3 separate regions of the Homo sapiens genome follow, and all the other regions are linked to region 2. Evidence: fine-mapped expression QTL. A gene starts in region 2. Each other region holds a variant in brackets. All regions are shown on one strand. Distances are from middle to middle. Region 1 overlaps DNAH7 (dynein axonemal heavy chain 7). Region 2 holds the start of STK17B (serine/threonine kinase 17b). Region 3 overlaps HECW2 (HECT, C2 and WW domain containing E3 ubiquitin protein ligase 2).

Region 1 (8,000 bases), 360 kb before region 2:
ATGTTTTAGAGGAGGAAGCCACATTAAACAACAGTGTGAAGCATCTCATATTCTCCCATCTTTAACATATGAAGTGAAAACTTGTGAGGCTTAACACTAGCATTTTCATGGAGATTACATTTTTTAAAAGGGCTACCAAGGGGTAGGATGTCTCACCAGGGTCATAAAGAATGCTAAACTACTGTAGTTACTTCCAGCATAAGAGAGTGGGGTAGCAGAGTGACTTTCGTGGACCCAAGGTACTTCATAGGCCCCTTTCTCCTTTAAAAAAAATTAAAAATTATATTTTACCATTGTTGGTATAAAGACAAATATACACACACTGGATTATATTCTTCTGATTTTAAAAGAAACTACAACATTTTCATAGACCCCTGGAAGTATTCTGGTTCCCAAGCACTGTGCCTCCTGTGCCTAATGGATACTTGGGCCTTGGCTAAGAACAGACTGCCACATCATGCAAGAATTACATGTGTTCAGTGAACAGAGTAGGGCTCATAGAGGGAAAAATGCCCCTAACCCATATTATCACTGATGTGTATTTTTAAAAAATTAATACATTACTTTGACAATCTAAATTCTGCTTTATTTTTTTTTCTTTTGGTTAGGATGGAGATATTTCTCCTATTCCTTAACAGATGAAACTGAATATAAGTTTTGAAATATTTATGTCAAACTTTAATTTGAGTGGTAATAATGGACAACTAGGATATTTTCTCAATTTTTTCCAACATAGCTAATGTCTATTTTTTTTTTTTAGAGCACATTGATATCTTTGTGGTATCGGTCAATATTCATAGGTGAATTTTTTTATCTAATACAAATGAGGATGTTAATGAATACTGACATTTGCTAATATAACAGGTCTGCTGATTCACTGGTTATATAATTTATTATTTAAAGAAGTTAAAAGTAACAATATTGACATTTTCCTTTGTTGTCAATAATGACGAATGTCTTAAATTCAAATTCCAACAAAAAACTATATATAAGGATAGCACTTGAGAAGTCCACAGATTCTAGTCTATCAGCTTGATGTTGACATCACTGACTAATTTCACCAAAGTATTAACAGTAAAGATAAGACTACAAATATGTAAAGGGAGTAGATTGTGAGTACTGAAAACCATAAATTAAAAACAAATAATCACAAAATAAATAAAATTATACAATATAATCCAACTAGTTACTGATTTAGGATGGTTTTAGAAAAATATACAAACTTTTTGAAAAAAATGTCTGCATTAGAAAGAAGTGGGATTATTTCCCGCAGGCTCCTCTACCTCCCCCATGATTACATAAGGAAACGCACATTTGGATGGACTGAGCAGGCATAAGGCTTTGGAATCATTGAGCTGTTTTCAAAGCCCACATTTACCTTGTCTGGCCTCAAGCAACGAATAATAAGCATCCTTTGAAACTCATTTGCTTTATCTTCCCATTCTTCAGGGAAAACCTCATGGTGTGGTTCCTAAAATTACAGTGTAAATAATTCAGTTATTTTGGAGATTATAAAGAGAACAGTATTTTCACTTATAAACCAACTTTTAGAATATATAAATGAAATCAAGAATGCTTGTCTAAATTTTACTATTTAGTGTAAAGTTGGGACATTATAAAATAAATAATAATAAGAAAAGTTAATATTCTTTAAAGGAGTCAAAACAAGGACATGAACTAATCAGGTTAATGTCGACATGAACACTAATAAACAGACAAAATGATCCCTATTATGAAAAAAGTAAATGTGCATATGCTACTATTTTCCCTTTATTCCTCCAAACACAGGCATTCTTTTTTTTTTTCTTTTTTTAAGATGGAGTTTTGCTCTGTCGCCCAGGCTGGAGTACAGTGGTGTGATCTTGGCTCACTGCAACCTCTGCCTCCTGGGTTCAAGCAATTCTCCTGCCTCAGCCTCCTGAGTAACTGGGATTACAGTGGTGCACCACCATACCCAGCTAACTTTTTGTATTTTTAGTAGAGATGGGGTTTCACCATGTTGGCCAGGCTAGTCTTGAACTCCTGACCTCAAGTGATCCACCTGTCTTGGCCTCCCAAAGTGCTGGGATTACAGGTATGAGCCACTGCTCCCAGCTGGAACAAAAACATTTTTAAAAACCTACCCACTTACCTCATCATCTATTTACAAAAATAAATAAATATTTCAAAACAAGTAAAAAGGGTATTGTACTGAAATTTATTGTATTATTTCTTGTTTTTTAAAAATACTGTTTTATAAAGGAAGACTTGAGAATGTGTGTAATGAAGAAGCCAATTGAGAGCTATTAAAAAATCACAAGAAGAGAGCCATCAGGGTACCAGAAGGGGTAAACCTTGGTGGGGAAAAAAGGAAACGTGTACCTGTGAAACTTTAGGAAAAGCTATGTGGTATCTCAAATTAGAAATCTTCATGCTTCAGCATAGTAATAAAATTTTAATTTTAAATTAGTTGAGGTACTCACAACACATACTTGTCTCTAGAAAACATTTTTATTACTAACAAGGAGAAATCCAAAAGAGATCACTTCCAAATATTTGAATTCGTGTGAAGACATAATCTCATTCTCACATATAATACAACAATATAGGTTGTATAGGTAACAAAATAAAGTATAGGTTAACCAAACAAAACATACTCTCTGCATATCTAGCTTTCTTTCCTCCAACCTCTCCCTAGGAGAGCTCTTGCATATTAAACTCACAGAAAGCAGGAAGTCAAGAGAGTAGAAACAAAGGAATAGAAAAAATTAACTGGGAATTGGAAAAATATTAGCCCTTGTGTTAAAGAAAAATTGAGAGAAAGCAACAATTGCTATATATCCCAGATGGGAAACTGTGAATATTATGTCTGTGTCAAGTATAATACTCCCCAGTTAGTAAAACAAGGTCTCGTGAAAGTTGTTTTAGAACTACTGTACAAGCTTTTTCCTTTTCTCAAATGACACACACACAGAATTTTATCAGCTTGTATCCTGCATTCAGAAAATCTAAACAACAGCTGTTCCATAAACTTTAACTCATCTGCTATTAGGATTGCCAAAATCTACATTGATAATGAATAAAAATCTGGCATGGAAATTCAACAAGTATATTCTCAAGAACCACACAGCATTCTTGCATCTTAATACATTTCAAGGAGTTTGAATGGAAGTTCAAACAGAACCACTGACTTAGAAGGGGGGATAACATAAATCAAAATTTGCATTCTAACATGTGACCAGTTGTTTAAAGCTTATTTAAATCTTGCTTTTATGAAAAGATACTTAACATTCTTTTCTCCATTTAAAAACATTGGAATAAGTGAGAGGGTTAAAACATACCAAACTATCATATACTTTCTTCCATCCATCCTTTAAGCGCATAAACTCTCTACGAATGGTTTTGAAGGCAGGCAAATCATCTAATCGACATATTTCATCCCAGGATTTCTGAGGAAGCCATGTACAAAGGTTGGCATAAGGATTATCCAGTCCAATGCCACCAGTTAGCAGAAATCTCCACTCAGCTTTATTAATCTTTGGAAAACAAGGCAGCGTGAAGAGTCAGAAACGAGTTCATCATAAACTAGTAAGCTTACAACCATTATAAAAGAGTTGAGTGTTGACTTCCAAGTTTCAGATGTGGTCTCTATGAAATTCTATAGCTAGTGTTATAGCTCAATATTTATTCATAGGAAACCAGTATACTCATGATAACCAGTTTTCAAAATAGTTCCATTTCAAATAGTTACTTTTTGA[C/T]AATTTTCCTCCAGAATTACTTGTCTAAATGTGAAAATCTGAATATGTTCTATTCGAATACGTGTTTTCCAAAATGACTGCCTAGAGCCCTATTGGCTCTAGAAATTGTAGAAAGGCAGAAACCCATCAATGTGCCATGTTTTTGACTATTTTCCATAAAGTATAATGAGTTACTGATACACAACTTTTGCAAGAAATGCAAGAATAAAGTATTTATTTCTTCAGAATTCAACCAATACATCACCATATAAAATCCATAAATCTTAAACACGTAAGTGTATAAAATAGTGACTTTACACAGATTTCAGTAATTTGCACAAGTCTTTAAAAACATTTACACTACTACCTGGTGTAAACGTATCAATATTAAGTAAATTTATATGCATAGCTGTATGAAAATCTAATATAATCAATTTATTTTAAAATAAAACATAATTTAATAGTAACATAATGAAATCTGTGCTTAATTTATATCTCACTTCTGTGAAATTTATCCTCCTGATAACATCTTGCCTTAACTATAATAACAAACAGTATTATTGCTTAACTATTTACAATCTTTTTATATATATTCCCATACAAATTAATAAATTAATGAATCAGCGTTATTAAGGGTTTTTTTCTTACAAATGAAAACAGTACTGACCGCCCGCTCATGCAGCAGTAGATTTATGGTTAGACAAAAGGAAAAGAGCAGCTTATCCTTTTCAAAGAGTGACCGGCAGACATTAACATACAGTGAATAAGTAAAGTGATCCTTGAGAATCTGAAGCCTAAGGGTCAACAGAAAATAAAGGAAATAAATAAAAATATACTTTAAAGATAATGCTCTTAAGAAACTTACATGTATGTTCTTCTGATAAACTTTCTGGTCAATTACCCCCCAAACAATCAAGAATCCTCATTAATTGGGTGTACCAATTTGAGAGCTACACAATGTAGAAACACTTCAGTCCAATTGCATTTTACTGTGGACTGAGTTTTTTTTTTTTAAAACTTAATCTTCCTCTTGGAAAAAAGTTAGTGGATGGTATATTAATCTGTTAGATTAAAAAGTTTACAGACTGTTTTTATCTACAAAGCATTTCTGGGGGTAAAATTTGACCTCTTTATAACAAATAATTTCAAATGTTTTATATTGTATATTAAATGAATAGTCTAAAATTAGTAGCTTCTTTATTAAATTTAGTATTGTGCTACTCATTATAAATTCATAAAAGCTGAAGAAATCACAAAACTTGGCAAACTCCATTTTTATTTGCTAGAGGCAAAACACGAAAATAGGAATAATCACAATATTTCCTTTTTATTATTTATTTATTTATTTGAGACAGGGTCTCACTCTGTCACCCAGGTTGGAGTGAGTGCAGTGATGCAATCTTGGCTCACTGCAACCTCCACCTCCCTGGCTCAAGCCATCCTCCTGCCTCAGCCTCCCAAGTAGCTGGGACTACGGGCGTGCACCACCATGCCTGGCTAATTTTGGCAATGTCCTAACTGATATTCTAAGCTGTCAATCATCCTAGCTTTTTTTTTTTTTTCCCACTTTTCCTTACGTGCCTATTTTCTTAACTATTTTATCCCCTGCAGCATTCCCATAAAGAGAATTACAACAAATTGATGTATCTTATTTTTAATTGGGAACTTCAAAAAAAAGGTTTTTGTAGAGAAAGCCTTGGCAATAGTTGCTAAAATACAGTTGAATTCTTAGAAGACTTAAAATAAACATACTATTTCTGTCCCCATTATTATGCTAATAGGTTGTCTTTTCATGCATGGCATTGAATTTGTCTCACTTGTAGCAGTACCATACAATTAATACAGGGTGACTCACATTTGGTCTTTTCAGAGTAAAACAAAATTTTCTGCACTTTAAAACAAGTCTCTTCTTGTAGACAGAAAGATTGAAGGGAAATTATAAAGGTTAATCATATTATAAGTTCAGGTTCAATCACTAGTAAAAATGGACATATAATATGATATGTTAATAACCTTTTAAGGTGAAAAAGAAGATTAAAATTATCATTCTCAATGCTGGTGAGTGATACAGTGATATAGGATCATTCATATTCCTCTGATGGAATTGTGTGTTTGAATAATCTTCCAGGAAAGGAATTTATATCAGGAATCTGCAAGAAGTGAACACCTTTGTCCTAATTTTGGGATTTCAGCCTAAGAAAATAATCAAAGATGCAGACACTTATATTTACTGCAGCATTACTTACAATATAAAAGCTGGAGACCACTTAGAAGTGTTTTTATTTATTTGTTTGTTTGACAGGGTCTCTGTCATCAAAGCTGGATTGCAGTGGTATGATCATAACTCACTGTAACCTAGAACTCCCGGGCTCAAGCAGTCCTCCCACTTCAGCCTCCCAGGTAGCTGGGACTACAAGTGCATGTCATCACGCCAGGCTAATTTTTGCATTTTTTGTAGAGACAGGGTTTTGCCATGTCACCCAGGCTGGTATCGAACCCTTGGGCTCAAGCAATCTGCCCGCCTCAGCCTCCCCGAGTGCTGGGATTACAGGTGTAAGCCACCCCACCCAGCCAAAAGTCTTATAATACAAAAATTATGGTACATTCATACAATGGTATGTATATTGTGCAACTCCTAAAACTTATGTTTCAGAAGAATACTTAATAACATGAGAGAATGGTCTTGATAGAAGTGAAAGAAAAAAAAAACTGTGTGCGTAATTATCAAATTGCCTTTGCAAAATTATGAGAGTAAGAGAAATCTGAAATAGCTGACTCCATCTTGCTTCTGGCCTCACAGGCTGGCTGTCTTGGTTCATTCCTGGGCATGGGCGAAGCTAACTTTGGAAGAAATTTAGTTTACTAGCCATGATACCAGAGGTGGTAAGATTTGCAACTTCCCCAATCACTCCTGTAAATAACATCACTATTGTAGAACCTAAGATTGACCTTTTGGGCTATCTTTTCAGGCTTTTGCATTTCTGACTATTGGATGGCCTCACCTAGACCAGCAACTCCTCTGGCAGTCCCCACCCAGAAGCAGACTCAGGGAAGACTGTTTTCCTTGCTGAGTTCCTATGATTGTGTTTCCAACCGATCAGCATGCCCTCCTCCCTAACGCCCTGCCCATCAAACTATCCTTGAAAAGCCCTAGCCTCCGAATTTTCAGGAGATTAATTTGAGTAATGACTCCATCTTCAGCATGGTGTGGCTGGCCTCACATCAGTTAAACTCTTTCTTTATCACAATGTCATGGTCTCAGTGGGTTGATTTTCTATGGGCGGCAGACAGGAAGAACCCATTGGGTGGTTACAATTACATATACATGCATATTTGTACAGCAACAGATTGATTCCAGGATATTTAACAAAACCATATCCTAGTTAGATTTGGTTTCTATATTTATGTTATTTTTGTTTTATTTTGCTTGCTACATAAAGTTATTTATTCTGTTACATAAATTCTAATGCATTAAAATCTTATAAATAACAGATGATCCAAGTTATGGCAATTGCACAGTATATACCATACTAGTCGTAACATAATACATTCTTGGTACCATATAATAATCACTACCAGAAGACAAACAAGAATGAAATACATTTATATCCCTAAATAAAAAGAAATGAGAAATAATTTTAGACCAATATTAAGATTCTAAAACAATCAGGTTGGCTAGTGTTAATAGTCACATGTTTTCTATGCTTTTGGTAGAACTATCGTCCAATAACTGCCTGAAGTCTACCAGTTATTTGATGACTATCAATGATTGGCAGAAAAACAGATCATTTCTGTGAGAACTCATTCTCTTTTTAATTTCTGATTTGGGAGCTAGCTTCTTAATTGGAAACTCTTAGTTTACTTTAACAACAAAAAAAAGATTAAATAGGACTGATCAAAGTTTCTCTCTTGGTATAATGCTTTGGAAAACTATTGGCAGTATTTACTAAAAGGGAATATAACCATGCCCTGTGGTCATCAATTTCATTCCTGGATATACACCCACCAAAGACAGATACATATCGGCACCAAAAGCCATGTACAGGAATGTTCAAGGAAGCAAAATTTCATAATAACCCCAAGTTGGAAGCTACCCAAATATCCTCAACAGTAGAATGGATAAATGATTTGTGTTACAGTATTAGGACAAGTAAAAATTGAAAATAAGAGACTCAATTCTTTATGTTGAAAATAAGGAGAGAGATTTTCCTTCCCTCCTTTTTTTCTTAATTTAGAAAACCTAAAATTATAGGTACTTCCTCCTCTCGTTGAATATAAACCCTT
Region 2 (8,232 bases):
ACTTGTTTTTAATATAAGCTACTAATACAAATACCTACTGCAGTTAAGAACATCACTCTTTTAAGAGCCTCCAAAAATCAGGAGATTCAGGTAAGTGTCCTATCAAGATTTATCACTGATAAGTCTAGATCATCATGAAGTACATTGGAAAGGCAACAGGAAGCAAAGTAAGCCCGAAGATTCTAAGGGAAGCAACTCCTTTCTACATAGGCATTTAAGGCATTTACTGCTAGCAAGCTTTCCCTAGGAAACTGAAAAAGAGATTTAACGTCCATCAAAAGTAAAGGAAGAACTTTCTCCTGGTGTGGCAGAAGTATGTGTTTTTAATTAGTCATTGATTAGAAGTATTGGTATCAAGATGGAAATGATGATGATTTTCAATTTCAAGGAAGAGATTATATTCCTCATATGTATTCTGCCAACAGGTTTTGTTTTTTAAAATATTTTGAACAGAAAATATAATTCATAAACTTAATCCTCTAAAAATCACAATAGGAAGTCAGCTAAACTAACTCTAATCCAACCATTCTAGTATATACTATCCAAGGGCTGAAGTGTCAGGCAATGACTCCTAGGCCTGACTCTGTGCCAAGACCCTAAGGCCTAATGCTGTGTCTTCCCACCTCCAGAAAAAGAGTTAAACCTGTTAATTGTGAACCAGGATAAAAGGTTGAAAAACGGAAATAGAGTGGGGGATTCCGGGGTGGGCAACAAATGCATGGTGCTTGTCACTCACAAGACGGAAAATTGGGTTTCTGTTGTAAAATATTGTTTACTTAATAGCACCGCTTAAGTACTATTTATTCAGTAACTATTACAATGCAAAATGGAATCTGCCTTTAAGGATTAAAGAGGAAATTACCATCTCACTGTTAAAATTTTTCAATGCTTACAGTATCACTACACCCTCTTTTGGAGTAATTGCAAAGGGTCAGGGATGAACCAAAATACAATGCATATAAATATTAAAAGAAACTAATATATATGTTTTAAATGGCACTGAAGTTTGAGGTTAAATGTTCTGGAAAAAGGATAATAAAAAACTTAATAAAGTATGCCCTGAAAATTGCAACATTACAACATATTTAAATAAAAATACATGCTTGTAACTTTATAAGAACATTTCTTAACTGAAATATTCAAAGAAATAGCCTTTGATAACAGCCCAGCATAGAATACAAACTACAGTACTTAAACATAAAATCACTGAATTTTGTCATCAATATTATGAAAAACTAAAGCAACTGACATTTGAAGTTTTCCTAAGTGGAAAGGTAGTAGATAAATGACTGCTAATGTTTCTGACAAAACAAATACCCATACAGTGCAGAAGATTTCTTTATGAAAAGAAGAATCAATCAGTATCCTTTAAAAGTAGTAAGCCTAGGAATACTATTTTTTTTTTTTTTTTTTTTTTTTTTGAGACGGAGTCTCCCTCTGTTGCCCAGGCTGGAGTGCAGTGGCGTGATCTCGGCTCACTGCAACCTCGGCCTTCCGGGTCAAGCAACTCTTCTGCCTCAGCCTCCCGAGTAGCTGGGACTACAGGCGCGCGCCACAATGCCCGGCTAATTTTTGTATTTTTAGTAGACACGGGGTTTCACCATATTGGTCTCGAACGCCTGACCTTATGATCCGCCCGCCTCGGCCTCCCAAAGTGCTGGGATTACAGGCTTGAGCCACTGCGCCCGGCCAGAATACTATTCTTAACTGCCAATCTTACATACAGAAAATGTGAATTACAATATACTATGCATGCAATTTTAAGGCAATTTAACGATTAAGTGAAAGTGTTATTAACTGAATTCCTTGACTTCTTGTGTCTCTAAAATTAAAGCAAAAATATTTTCATAAGGAAATTCTCCCTTATAATTATCAAAGAGCTTTAAAACATGTTAAAATGTTCACTTAACAAAAGTAAAACAGAGCAAGCTTAAAAATAAAATTATCTGATTAGAAACGTCAGCCATAAAAATGCTTGTATCTTCTTCAAATTTGTTACTCATATGCTAACACAGCGATTAGTCAAACCTCCAACTTCCTAAAAACGCATTCTATCTTAACCAAATCGTAATTCACTAATCAATGATCCCAAGAGAAACCGCAACCATTCTATTCACACACAAAAAAGGATGGTCTTCAATTACAGAAATTCTACTTTTAAAAAGTCTTGCCATGTAAGCAAATATATTTCACCTCAATTTTGGATCCCTACTTTAGAAAAAAAAAAAGATCTAAAATGTACAATATGTATCTCAAAAATAAAACATCTATTAATACCTCCAATTATTAAGATACTAGAAAAAGTTTAATTGAGCATCTGCTCAGAGGAGGAGGATCCGAGGCAGATGAGTTTAAAACTTTTGCACCGCTTCTATGGACCAGTTTTCTTAAAAAATACACAATCCTAGGGGTACACGGTCTAATATTTATAAAATAAGCACTTGTTGAAAATTACTTCCGAACAGTTCACCATAAAACTAAAAAACAGTGTTATCAATGAGAAAGTAGGTTTATTTTCCTTTAATAAAATTGTGCTCCTGGGTTCAAAATGCCAGGTTACATACGCTGCCACTCATTTCTACAGAGCTATGCTGTCTCCGCGCAGACATTCTCATAGACTTGAAAACGTAAAGTGGCCACACCACGTCAAACGTCCCTGGCAAGGTTCTGCTTATCATTAGCACCACAGATGTAAACATTACGTCGACAAAACAATCGGTGAATGTGATACACAGTCCTCATGTGTTTAAATATTAGTGAAATCTGATAAGTATTACGATTTTAAAAACGTATTTTCTTAATTCCAATTTCCAAATTGATGTCAGAGTGCCTCTAGTCCAGACAGAAACTAATGCCAGCTACCAGCTGCTATAAAGCCTCTTTCAACTTTGTCTCTACTTCTCCCTCGGAGGAAATTCAAATGAAACGCTTTTCCCTACAATAAAACAAAGAGCCTGGGTAAATGTCAAAAATCGTTGGCATCCAGTAGTGGTATAGTTTGAGGATGAGTCGTGCACACTAAGTGGGTCACAAGGCATCAAAGCAAAAATCAGATCGCTGAAAATCACGGAAACAGCTGTAGCCCGTCTTGATCTCTCGCTGGTTTTAAAACACTGTTCCCAAGCAGTAACTGAAAACGTCCCACAAGATGAACACGAACTTTCTCTAGACGAAAGGCAGCTGGGAGCAGGACGCGTCCACGAGTCCCGATGGGAACGCGCCCACGCCGCAGCTGGGACTCGGGAGAGGCTAGGGGGACCGCGTGGCCTTGCTGTGGAAGGGACCCGCGCGGGCCCGCCGCGAAGGGGGCCCTGCCTGGCGCGACCTGGGGAGAGCCGGGGCCGGCCGGGTGGAGGGCGCACGGGGACACACGGACACGCACAGACACAGACACGCGCCCCGGGCTGAGGAGGGTGGTGGGAGGACCGCCGGCCGCCCCCCGCGCGGAGCCCCAGGGAACCCGGACTCCAGCCGCAAAGCGGAGAGGCGCCAGCAGCAATCAGCCACCTCAGGGGCGGCGGAGTCCAAGCCCCTCTCAGCCGGACCGTACCGCCTAAACCCTCCTCGGGTCCTCCTTCCTCACGTATGAGGTCTCTGTACCGAGGCGGCTGGTTCCATCGCAGCCCCGAGCCAACCCGCCAATCCCGCAGGACACTAACCGCTCCGGCCGCCGCAGGTTCTCCCGGGACTGCCCCCTCCAGGGGGCCGCTGTCCCGCCCCACGCCGGGGGCCGCCACAGGACGAGTTCTCTAGCTCCAGCCGGGCGAGGCGCCAGGGAGCTCCGAACGTGGCAGGATCCACTTTTACTTTTCCAGACAAGGGCCGACGGTTGTGACCTGGCTTCTCGTGAAGTGACTCCTGGCGACAGCAGCGGAGAGGACTACCGAAGCTTGCAGTCGCGGTTTGAAAACTGCAGCCGCGTCTGGGGCATCGCCGTTCGCCAGATCCCTCCCCCTAGGTCGGGAGAGCCAATCGGAACGGGTGCGGAGGGTGGGTCTGTCACGTGACGGGAGGGGCGGGGCACCGGCCGGGGGCGCGTGTGCGGGGCGGGGCCCGGCGGTGAGAGGGTGCGGCGCCTGGCTGGCCCGAGGCGGGGCGGGGAGGCGCGGCGGCGTGGCGGCGCAGGTGGGGCGCACTCGGGCTGCCGCGAGGGAGGGGCGGAGGGGGCGGCGCTGCAGAGGGGGCGCGCGGGGCTGGAACTACTGCTCTGTGTACTCCTTCCCACCTTCAGAGAGGTCAGTTCGAGAGGTGTGAATATCCGGAGACCGGGGAGAAGGAAGCCGCAAAATTCGTCCCAGCTGCCTGCGACTAGTTACCAAACTTCAGTGCCTACCAAAGACCTATTTTCTGACTCTTCTTGAGAGTCTTCCTTAGGACCGGAACGTACCCTGTAAGTGGAGAACCCAGTTTGCTACAACTTGGCAGAGGTTCCTCGGAGTGTCAACATCAGTTGGGGATTTATGGAACCTAGACCCCACTGCTAACGTCCGCTGTCGCGAATGGTGTCCCTTCTGAGGCACTGACTGAAGGCAGTGTAGGGAGGGTCCCAATAGGCTGAATAGCCGATTTTGCATTTATAGTGCTAAGGAAAAAGATGAAAGCCCTCAGCAACCTACTCAAGATCTGTTATCCTTTGAAGACAGTGGAAATTTTCAAAGTTCTGTGCAAGACACAAATGTTTTACATAGATATATAATCCTAGTTTATATGTATAGGATACACACATACTCATACATATATGGGATTAGTTATGTAATCTAGGATTGCTTTCAGAGGACATTTACGATAATTGCAGAAAACCCTTCCGTGGGAAAGGATACTGGGAGTGGAGTCGTCCTCTTGCTTTCAAAAGACTTAATGTTCAGTTAGCATATAAAGGACAGGTTTTCTTGTTCTATCCCAGTAAGCCAAGCAAATTCCTGTGAAGCTAGCTGTTTCCCTTTCCTACTGCATTTTCCCCAAGATAAAGGTATAGAATGCATCACAGCCCTTTTATGAAGTCTGTTTGTTGTTACTTAGGTTAACTCCTCCTCCCAGGTTAATAATGTCTTGCCCCTAAACCTTGTCAAATGGAGAATATTGCTTCCATCTATCTAATTTCTTGTTGCTAACAATTGGGCTGACTAGAGAAGCCTAAAGTTAGGATGAAAATAAAATGCCACACACTGGAATTAACTTTTCTGGGGTATAAGAATCCGTAAGCAATGAGACTGTTCCCATCTTTTCTTTCATGAGCATAGGTGTTGCATTCCAGAGGTCTCAGCACCAGTACCAAAACTAGTAACCTCTTGGGGGTCACAGGATTACATCATTATGGTGGTTTTGGGGTTGTGTGTTTAACTTTGGACCTCCTTAATTTCAACATTTCATCAATTGCCAGCTTTTAGCAATCTTCTCACACTCACCCCATACTCCCCGTCACTAATCCAGTCCCAGATCACTTCACACCTAGACACAGACTTTTCTCTCTCTGGCACCACTGTAAGCCAGTCCTCTTGGTCACAATACCTCTGCTGTAACCAGCCAGCCTCCTAGGGATATTGTCATGTCTTGCATTTTCCTGCTTCTGCCTTAGCTCCAGCTTATCACCATCCTCCTCATCCATACCTGTTCATCAGTTTCTGACTTTAAGAAGGTTACCCTCTTCAGGAATCAGAACTCTGCTGATTCCTACTTTCTGTTCCCAGCCTGATCACCTCTGCCTTATGTTCTTTGGTGCAGGGCTGATAGTTTGTGTTTCTTTTATGACCCTAAATAGATTGTTAACCCTTGTGCCTGATGTCAGATTTGTTAACTAGGACTTACCACACTATCCCAAGGACATTCAACTACACTTACTTGGTCTCAGGCACTGTGGTTCAAGTAACAAGGAATTCCTGGTGCTGAGGAGGAGGCAGTACATCTGTGGCCTTGCAGGAAAATTCAGAAGTCAATACATTCCTCCATCCACCTCATTTACCTAAACTCATTCATCACCGTGTCAAAGATATATGTTCCTGCTCTCATTCCCTTGAGTAGGAAATCTCCAGGTGACCTGATGGTCATTCTGTGGTCATTGCTTCTGACCACACAGTTCATTAAGTTGACCATCCTTGAATGACACATTCCGACCAGGGATGGCGGTTGTTATGGGCTCAGTTGTGTTCTTTTCCAGTTCATACGTTGAAATTCTAACCCTCAGGAACTCAGAGTATGACCGTATGTGGAGATAGGGCCTTTAAAGAGGTAATTAAGGTAAAATGAGATAATATGAGTGGCCCCTGATCCAAGATGACTGGTGTCCTGATAAGAAGAAATTAGGACACATACAACACTGACTAAGGGACCACCCTGTGAGGACATAACAAGAAGGTGGCCATTTGCAAAGCAAGCAGAGAGGTTTCAGAAGAAACAAGACCTGCTGATATCTTGATCAACAGCCTCTAGCCTCCAGAACTGTCTGTTGTTTAAGCTGTCCGCTCTGTGGTATTTGTTATGGCAGTCCAAGCAAACAAATACAGTGGTCCTCCTGGATCACTCCAGGTTAGTAATCACACACTGACTGGGAGCGATGATCGTTCCCAGTCACTGCTTACCACATGTGGCCAGGGAAGGTGATCCTCTCCGGTAATGGCACGACACTCACCATATTCTGTCCAGGGAAGGGACCTTCCCCAGTCACATCAAGTCAGTCACCGCATACTGACCACATAATGATCAAGGAAAGTGATTCTCACCGATTCCATGTTTACTCCCTGTAGATGCAGAAAAGGAGGGTTTTGCACAGAGCAGAAGGCCTCAAACTCAAAACTCTTGCCACTGACACACCCTCCTTCTGAAGAATTCATGTGGAAAAGGCAAAACAAGCTCTACTACCTGTCTAGAACTGAATATACCAGAAACCTGTGGCTAGGCTAAAGGTAGCCAGACGCAGGCAAGGCCAACAGCCTCTGAAGGGGCGTGGCTCAACCCCCCACCCAACAGGGGTGCTCACTGAATGGAGACAGGCTCCTCCAAACAGATCCCCTCTCTGGAGGTAGGAATAGTGAGTGTACTCAGATGGAGATGTCGCAGTGCATTTACTCATGGTGCCTACAGCACATTGCAATTTTGAAAGCACTGAGAACCAGAGAGACTCTAAGAGACCTCACATCCCCTGACTCTCTTGAAACACTATTAGCAAAGCTAATTGGGGCTAGTTTTGTCTGATGAGAGTAATAACTCAGACTGGTACAAGTGTCTTCCTTAAAGGGTGACACAGCTTTCCTCTCCAAAACATCCATGATCAACTAGGGCCAATATGCCAATCCAACCACTCACTGCAGTTTATAGAGTATAACCTGTCCTGTAAAAGCTGTCCAAAAGAAATGCCACGCACATTGGCAAATGTTCTACTAGTCATATTTTAAAAAGTAAACACAGATAAAATTAATTTTAACAATTTATTTTATTTAACCCAATATTTCTAAAACATTGTCATTTCAACATGTAATCAACAAAAATTATTGAGACATTTTACTTCCTTTTTTAATATTGTCTTAAATCTAGTATTTTATACTTACAGCATGTCCCAATTCAGATGCCAAATTTTCATCGGAAACACTTGATCTGTATTTAGATTTCACAAAATTTACTGTTGCAAAAAGCAGATTCACATTCCTAAGTTGTTTTGAACAAACTAAAGTTTTTCACGCCAGGTGTGGTGGCTCATATCTGTAATCCTAGCACTTTGGGAGGCCAAGGCGGGCAGATGATTTGAGATCAGGAGTTCAAGACCAGCCTGGCCAACATGGTGAAACCCCGTCTCTACTAAAAATACAAAAATTAGCCAGGCATGGTGGCAGGTTCCTGTGATCCCAGCAACTCAGTAGGTTGAGGCAGGAGAATCACTTGAACGCAGGAGGCAGAGGTTGCAGTTAGCCGAGATTGTGTACCACTGCACTCCAGCTTGGGCGACAAAGCGAGACTCTGTCTCAAAAATAAATAAAGTTTTTCAATAACTAAATACAGTATCAGTTTCTTAATATAAATTTAATGACAATGAAATAAAATAGAAAATTTTGTCATGTTAGCCACATCCCAAGTGTTTCATGGCCACATGTGGCTACTAAGTTAGGCAGTGTAGGTCTGAAGGGCTAGAAACGTGCCTTCTAATTGTGTCTAAATTTCCAGTGCTAGAGACAATCAGAGCAGTCTGGAGCTAGAAAAATTCTTGCAGTTCAGTAACCCAACTCCCTTGTTTTAGAAGGGAAG
Region 3 (8,285 bases), 35 kb after region 2:
AAATTTTAGGAACTATGATTATTAACAAGCTATTTCTACAAAGTCACATGTCTATACTTTTACTCTGATAAATCCCTTTTCCTTATGAAATAAATATAATTAATATTCCTGGATGCAGTGTAATGTAGTGGGAAGACCAGAGATTTGCAGTTGGACATATTTGGGTTTGGATTCTAGCTCTATCAACAAGTGTGTGATTTGGAGTGAGTTATTAAAACTCTGAGCCCGTATTTCTCACCTTTAAAAGGGTGGTTATATAACTTGTCTGAGAAGGATGTGAGGATTAAGTGAAATAACAGAAACATGCTTAATAGAATGACTGGCTCATAGTGTTTGACCAATTAATAATAGAGGTATTGTTAGCTACATTTCATTACTATCAACAAGATTTGACTCTAATTGCCTTCAGTGAATTGCCACAAATAGTAATGACCCATGAGAATGATGAGATAATAAAGGGATAATAAAGCAGGTGTGTGGCCACATGGCTTATTAAAAACAGGAATGTGAACAGGATCTGTTATATTGTAAGAATACAGATAGAGTATTCCTTATCCAAAATGCTTGGCACCAGAAGTGCTTTGGATTTCAGATTTCTTTGGAATTTGGAATATTTGCATATATATAATGAGATATCTTGGGGAATGGGACCCAAGTCTAAACATGAAATTCATTTACGTTTCACATGCACCTTGTATACACAGACTGAAGGTAATTTTATACCATATTTACATAATTTGGTTCATGAAACAAAGTTTTGACCGCGTTTTTGACTGCACCCTGTCATATGAGGTCAGTTGTGAAATTTTCTACTTGTGGCATCATGTTGGCACTCAAAAAGTTTTGGATTTTGGAGCATTTTAGATTTAAAATTTTTTGACTAGGGATACTCCAACTGTATGAGTTTTAGGGTATAGAGATAGTACCGACTCACCCACTCCTAGTACTGTAAACTCTGGGATATATTGGTGGAAATCATCTAATGAATCTTTGCAGGCAAACCCTTTTTTGATACAATAAGCATTTCAGAATTGCATTTGATATCCTTAGACTGGAACGCAAATTGAGCCTCAAGAAAAGGTTTTACTTATTTAAAAATTCAACTTGTATACTACACTAGAGTCCTAGCAGTGGTTTATAATCTATCATCTGTGAAACACTGGAATAAAAATATTAAATAAAGATTTATCTCTGTTCCAGGGGTAGGGGAGGAAGAAGCAGAAAAGTAGAATACGTTTTGAATATAATTCTATGCCAAACTGTGTGTGTCAGACAAATAACATTTATTATCCTATTAGACTAACAGATGACACCACAATACTATTTTACAATTTTCATTTCTTTGGTTACCAATAAGGTTGAGCATCTTTCCCCCATGTCCTCTTGCTTTTTACATTTCCTGTTTTGTGATCCATATGTTCATCTCTCTTGCCCGATTAACTTTTCAGTATTTTTATTGTGATAAAATATACATAATATAACATTTACCATTTTAACTATATTTAAGTGCACAGTACCATGGCATTAGTACACCTACGTTATTTTGCAACCATCATCACTATCCATCTCCAGAACTTCTGCATCTCGCAAAACTGAAATCTGTATCCATTAAATAGTAACTCCCATTTCCTCTCCCCCTAGCCCCTGGAAACCACCATTCTACTTTGTGTCTCTATGAATTTCACTACCCTATGTACTTCATATAAGTGGAATCTTAAAATATTTGTCTTTTGTGATTGGCTTATTTCACTTAGCATATTTTAAGGTTGATGTTGTAGCATGGGTCAGAATTTCCTTCCTTTTTAAGGCTGAATAATGTTCCATTGTATGTATATACCACATTTTCTTTATTCATTCATCCATTAATGAACAGGAGTTTTTTTCCTACCGTTTGGCTATTGTAAATAATGCTCCTATGAACATGAGTGTACAATTATCTGTTTAAGTCCTCCTTTTCAATTTTTTGGGGGATATACACAGAAGTGCAACATCATATTGCATTTTTCATAGTGGCTGCAACATTTTACATTTCCATCAACAGTGCACAAGGGTTCCAATTTCTCTACATCCTCACCAACACTTATTTCTTGTTTTTTGTTTGTTTGTTTGTTTGTTTTATAATAGCTATTGTAATGGGTATGAAGTCCATTCACCTTTTAAAGCCTTAGGATTTCTTATTAAAATCAAGAGAGACTCTCACTGTTGTTGAATTTGAAGAAGGAAGCTACTATGAATTCTATAGCTGCAAGGAATGAATGCTGCCAACAACCCAAGGGAACTTGGAAGCAGATTCTTCCCTAGTTGGTCCTCCAAATGAGAATGCAGCCCCACCCACAGCTTGATTTCAGCCTTGTGAGACCATGAGCAGAAGACCCAGCTAAGCTGTGCCTGGATGCCTGCTCCATGAAAACAGTGAGATCATAAATGTGTGTTGTTTTACACTGCTAAATTTGTGGTAATTTGTTTTGCATCAGTAGAACCAGTAACAGGTCTCAAGGTAGTGAAACAGTTCAAGAAAAGGTGGCAAATGTGATGTTAAGTGTGATACAGTAGAATCATCTATCCAGGACAGGTGGTGAAACAAAGCTAGGGGTTGGCAACAGTTCTTTCATTCTCCCAGGTTTCTGAGTAGAGAAACAGGAACTTTGAATGTCTCTTTGCCATTTCTGTAGTATCTTTGCAGGTACTCTAGAAGCTTATCCAGTAAATCCACAAGCCTAAATACTCTTTTCAGTTCTCAACACAAAGGGAAGGCAAAGGGAAGGACTAGACAACCTTTTTTGTTCCTCTGCAGTCGTAAGACATAATCAGCATTACTAATCCATAATCTAAGGCTATTGCTGCTTCATAAATTACATCTGGTTGCATAATATATGGTTACCATAACACAACTTTCCTTCTAATAAACTAAACAGCTCCTCTGGAAAATATTTCGCGATGATGGGGAAAGCATATATTGTGGAGGGGGAAACTGTGTGGAAAGATTAAATGGTTTTCCCAAGGTCAAAGCTGAGTCAGTGGCCAAATCAAGAAAAGGACCTCAGTTCTGGGTCTCCTAGGGAAAGTCCAACATTAAACTGAAAGCGGGGAGATTAATGCTCATGGCTTCATTCTTTTACTTTTGGAAGCCTGAGTATTAATTTTATCCTACCTCTGACTACGAACTATTATTCCTCAACATCCTACTAGATTATCCACATTTTGAGGACAAGGATTGGCAAAATAAAGCTTCAGATATTTTTTAAATGAATAATTCAATCACAATATGCAGTAGCTCTGGGGAAAATGGCTGAGATTGAGTCAATCCAGAAAACCCTGAAAAATACCAGGGGATTTTTAGGTGATCATACCATCTAGCTCAATCTCAGGCTTAATAGAAGAAGGCAAATACTCAAAAGGATACTTTAGAGTGTATCAAAATCACTCCAGGAGCTTGTTTTACAATGGAGATTTTTGGTTGCACCCCTTGTGATT[G/T]TAATTCAGAAGGTTTGGGGTGGGCCTGGGGGAATATGCATTTTAATAAATATGCCAAGTGAGTCTGATGCAGGTGGTCTCCACTATTGGAGAGGCATCAAGTGGATTAGCAACATGATACCTACATTGGCTATTTGCACCAGTGTTTTATGTGCTTGCAGAAATTTCAAAACTCCTTATAAACAAGACAGCATTGCTAATAAGGAAATTGAGGAATAGTGTGGTTAAATAAATTGCCCAATATTTACCATCAACTTGCTCTATGAGCCAAGGCCAGGAAAAAAACAAAAAAAATGGCAAGCAACACATAATCCTTGGAGGCTTTTCACACCCCCACTCCCACCCCATTCCATGTCCTAAGAAAACTTTAGCAGAAAATAACAGGAGGGCCCTGGACTGTGTTGATGTTGGCAGCAAAAGTGCATCCAGCTATTCAGTCTCAATAAAAGAACATTTTTCAAATCTTTCAAAGCCAGTCACACTAAAGCTATAATGGGTTTACCTCATTTTAATCTATTTAGCCAGAACCACTCAAGGAAAGCAGGTCTGAACCCATCTTTGGGAAATCATGCTGGCATCAATATTAAGAAGATTTAAAAATTCTCCAGACATCTGGTCTGACTTAATAGATCTCTTGGTGCTTTCTGGATTCTTCAAAAATGTTAATCAGGAGGTCACATGCTTACCCTCCCTTTTTCCCTACAGATAGACAAGTCAATTAGATAAATCCAGTGAGCCAAAAGTATCAGTTACATTTCCATTTCCATAGATTGGTTTGTTGATTAATTTCTCTCTCTGTATGTGAATGTACTTAATTTTCCAATTTGCATTATATTTCATTTATTCCTTCACTCGCTGAATAAGTACTTACTAAGCATATACTCCATGCCAGGGATTCAGCTGTCCTCTGAGAGATGAGGATGAAAAGTCTGGTTTCTGTCCTCAAGGAGTTTACACTGTGGCAGCAAAATATACAGGCAAAAAGACCCTCTAAAGTTTGTGTATCCTGTGCTCTGGGGCAAGCAGGAACTGAAATCCAGCCTTCCTTTGGCTCTGCTTGCCAAATTGTGAGCCCTAGCTGCAGGCTGCATTTCTCCAAAAGGCTAGGAGACACCTTTGTTTCATTAGTCCCAAAGATGGGCTATTAGTGGCCCTGCATACAAACAGTTAATAATACTATGAGTTACAAGTTTGCTCAGCAGAGCCAAGGAAGGTTCATAGAGGACACTATCTGTGCCAAGGCTTGAAAGATTTGTAGGTGTGCAGGTTTTCTCTGAATCAACAACAAGGAGAAGGATGTTCCCAGCAGATGGAACATGACATTGCATCATCAGGAAACCTGAGAGGGGCAAGCGCCTAAGGGACAGGAGGCAAGGTTGGACCTGAGGCCAGATGGGGAGGCAGGGACACATCAGGAAGCCAGGAGTGTTCTTGCAAAAACCTTTTCCAGTTATTTCATGGATGAAAGAAAGAAAAGTGGGTTGGCAGAGGTATCTTTAAATAAGGCAGGGAATATAGGAAATGGGTAGAGGGACAGATGATGAATTCAAGGGCGTGAAATCAGCATGAGAAATCCAAAGTTACCAATTAAATAGAGTGATCGAATTCCATTAAAGGAATCCAGTTATAGTTTTGTTAGCCTGGGTAGCTTTATTAACACAACTAATGGTAAAACTTGTTAGAATTTTTAAAATATTCATAATTTATCTAATATCCTCATGAATACCTTCTTAGGCCATGAGGTTTAGAGCAGAAATTCCTATTAAGAGTAGGGCACAAATATGTGTGTAACTTATGGCAGCAGAGCACAATGCCCTGACCTTCACCAGGTGTTCGGTAAAGGTGAATTCATGGAAAGAAATTCTATGGTGCTTGCTATTCCAACTACTCATTGGTCATGTTCCATTTTGGGACCAATGATGTTGGTTATCTGTTCATGTAAATATCCATTGCTTCTCTCCCTGTGTTTTAAGGTCAACGTATATCTCCCACAAGGTTCGGCACTTAGTAAAGCCATGAGGAGTATCTATAGACGGGTGAGGGGAATTAATCTATTCACTAATTAATGTCTTATTCCAAAGTCTCATTAGGTCACTTTGGTTAAGGTGCACTTGGATCTGTAAATACAAAGTGGAATATTCCCATAGGGGGGAATTCCTGTATCTGGGGTAACTAGCAGAAGAAACTCTTCAAACTATGCATTCTGAGCAGGTACCTTCTTCACTTGTGAATGCCTCTGGGGAGAGATAAAGAGGGTACATACTTTTCAAATGTAAGAATTTAAACCAAACAGAACAAAGTCCAGTAAGGACAGTTCCAGGAATGGAAACCCCTGTAAGTCCAAACAAAATACAAACACGCTGGGTGAATATGGCACATTTCTCACACACCTAAAGACTATAAAGTATCCGGCCAGCCCTGAAGGCTAGATATTAGGAAGAATAGTAAGAATGGCTAAATTTATTGAATGATGTTTTAGGCCTTATTCTAAGCACTTTGCATGTTATCTCATTTAATCTTCAAAACAACTTTGTAATATAAATGCTAATTTCTATCCCAACTTTTCAGATATGGATACAGAGATATGAAAGTCTGGATTATGATTTTGGAATTTCTTGTCTGGAGTGGTCCAAAGTTATCCCTAAAGATTTCAAATTCACTAAAAACAATATTTATGGAGTACATGTGCTAAGCACTGGGCTCACTGCTAGGAGCAAAGCCATGTTTAATTCAGATAAGGTACTTGTTCTCACAGGATTATACTCCAGAGGAGGAGACAGATAATCAACAAGTAAACCAATAACTGAACATGATGACTGAATTGGGTCAAGCCTAGTGAAGGAAGTAAGGGGTGAAAGAGTGACAGGTGCACTAAGGACAGAAGCCTGGTGGGCCTTTCTCAGGAGATCACCTCTAACCCGAGTCTTGGGGACAAGAAAGAGCCAGGCATGAAGGACCAGCAGATAAGTGTTATAGGCAGCAATTCCCTGAGCCTTGAAGCATAATTGAGTTTGGCATATTTGAGGAATACACAGAAGGAGGCTGGTAGGTGTCATGGGTTGGGGGAGAGGGTACATGTTGAGGTTGCAGGAGGAGGCAGACCAGGGCCCCACAGGAAGTCCTTGGGAAGGAGTCTGGATTTTATTCTAAGCCACCAGAGGGTGTAGGCAAGGGAGGGAGGTGACCTTGAGATGTTTGCAGATCCCAGTGGTTGTTGAGTGCAGAATGAATGAATGGTGGGATGCAGGAGAAGCAGGGGATTTAGCCAGCAGTCTACTGCAGTAGTCCAGGTGAGGGGGGATGGTGTCATGGACTAGGCTGGTGGAAAGAAATGAGCCCAAACTGGTTTTTGCTCTTGAGGCCAAGGAAAAGTGGGTAAGCATTCTTTAACTGTTGCAATGTCTGTCACTCACAAATAGACACTTTAAAATCTGACTTGTGAAATAGCTCTCAAGGACCTTTAGTAGATTTGACTTGGACTATCCTGTCCTCTGTTGTCAGCAGCAACAATGCTGATGGAATGCAAGTGGAATGATTATCTCATTCCATTAAAGTCACAAATTCTTTCAATAGCTTGACGTTTTACATTAATTACAGAAGAGTCCCTTTTTTTAATACAATCTGTTTTTATGATAAATTTACCCACCTCCCAAAGTAAAGACCAATCCAAAAGGTATATGACATTTAAGAATCTTTAATATGGTGATGTGATGGGTTAACTCTGGCATGTTTTTGTTAGTACATGCAGATTCAATGGCAGAATAAAGTGAAAATTTAAAATACAGTTATATAGAACTGAGTGAGAGGGCAGAGGGGAAAGGAGTTGAAGAGAGTCTTGGACCTGAGGTTCAACTACAGAGCAGACCACTGTATGAGAATCTCCTGTCAATTCTCTCCCACACGAAAAGCCACATCAGCTCATCAGCAGGCGGTAGGGAATTAGGAAGACCAACGAGGGACACCTCAGGGCAAATATAGAAAGGAGATGGCCCCAAAGGGTCCTTCTAGTACTCATCTCTTGTTCTGATGGTTTTTCTTTCTTTCTTTCTTTTTTTTTTTTTTTTGAGACGGAGTCTGGCTCTGTCGCCCAGGCTGGAGCGCAGTGGTGCGATCTCGGCTCACTGCAAGCTCCGCCTCCCGGGCTCCCGCCATTCTCCTGCCTCTGCCTCCCGAGTAGATGGGGCTACAGGCGCCCACCACCACGCCCGGCCAACTTTTTGTATTTTTAGTAGAGACGGGGTTTCACCATGTTAGCCAGGATGGTCTCCATCTCCTGACCTCGTGATCTGCCCACCTTGGCCTCCCAAAGTGCTGGGATTACAGGCGTGAGCCACTGTGCCCAGCCTGGTTTTTCTTTTAATTGAGGAAAGTGACATTGTATTTCAGGACTTGGTTATTTTCCGGTATACTGGCTGATAATTCACTTTGACAGTAGACAATGCTCCCTATAATGGAGGAGGGAAAACTGAATTATTGATAACATTACAGAGCAATATTTAATGACATGGAAAGATGTTCCATGTGATAAACGGAATGTTGTTTTAAAATGTGTGTGTGTGTGTATGTGTGTGTCTGTGTGCCTGTGTGTACCTGAAGAAATGAGTGAAATCACATACTCTAACATGTTAACAGAGCTTATCTTAGTAATTGACTTTTTTTTCCTTCAGAAATGGTATCTCTCTATGTTGCTCAGGTTTGACTCAAACTCCCATGCTCAAGCCTTAGCCTCCCAAGTACCTGGGACTCCAAGCATGCACCACCATGACCAGCTAGTAGTGGACATTGGGTGGACATTGGATTGATACATATGT

The links.
Region 1: its variant is fine-mapped to the expression of STK17B in whole blood (INTERVAL, PIP 0.99).
Region 3: its variant is fine-mapped to the expression of STK17B in whole blood (TOPMed, PIP above 0.99).

The regions. Positions count from the first base shown.
Region 1 is chr2:195,805,362-195,813,361 of GRCh38, forward strand. It overlaps DNAH7 (dynein axonemal heavy chain 7), which reads right to left. Exons shown (of 65, transcript NM_018897.3): 52 at 4,384-4,510; 53 at 3,321-3,515; 54 at 1,379-1,471. Among named protein-coding and RNA genes, the nearest start is that of SLC39A10, 150 kb to the left of the region's middle. The variant C/T (reference allele first, on the strand shown) is at 3,738.
Region 2 is chr2:196,167,674-196,175,905 of GRCh38, forward strand. It overlaps STK17B (serine/threonine kinase 17b), which reads right to left and starts at 3,905. Exons shown (of 8, transcript NM_004226.4): 1 at 3,660-3,905. LOC101927454 (a long non-coding RNA gene) reads left to right here and starts at 3,866. Exons shown (of 2, transcript XR_923737.2): 1 at 3,866-3,958; 2 at 4,232-5,175. RefSeq lists silencers at 3,231-3,450, 3,971-4,200.
Region 3 is chr2:196,202,244-196,210,528 of GRCh38, forward strand. All of the region lies in intron 28 of HECW2 (HECT, C2 and WW domain containing E3 ubiquitin protein ligase 2), which reads right to left. Among named protein-coding and RNA genes, the nearest start is that of STK17B, 35 kb to the left of the region's middle. The variant G/T (reference allele first, on the strand shown) is at 3,475.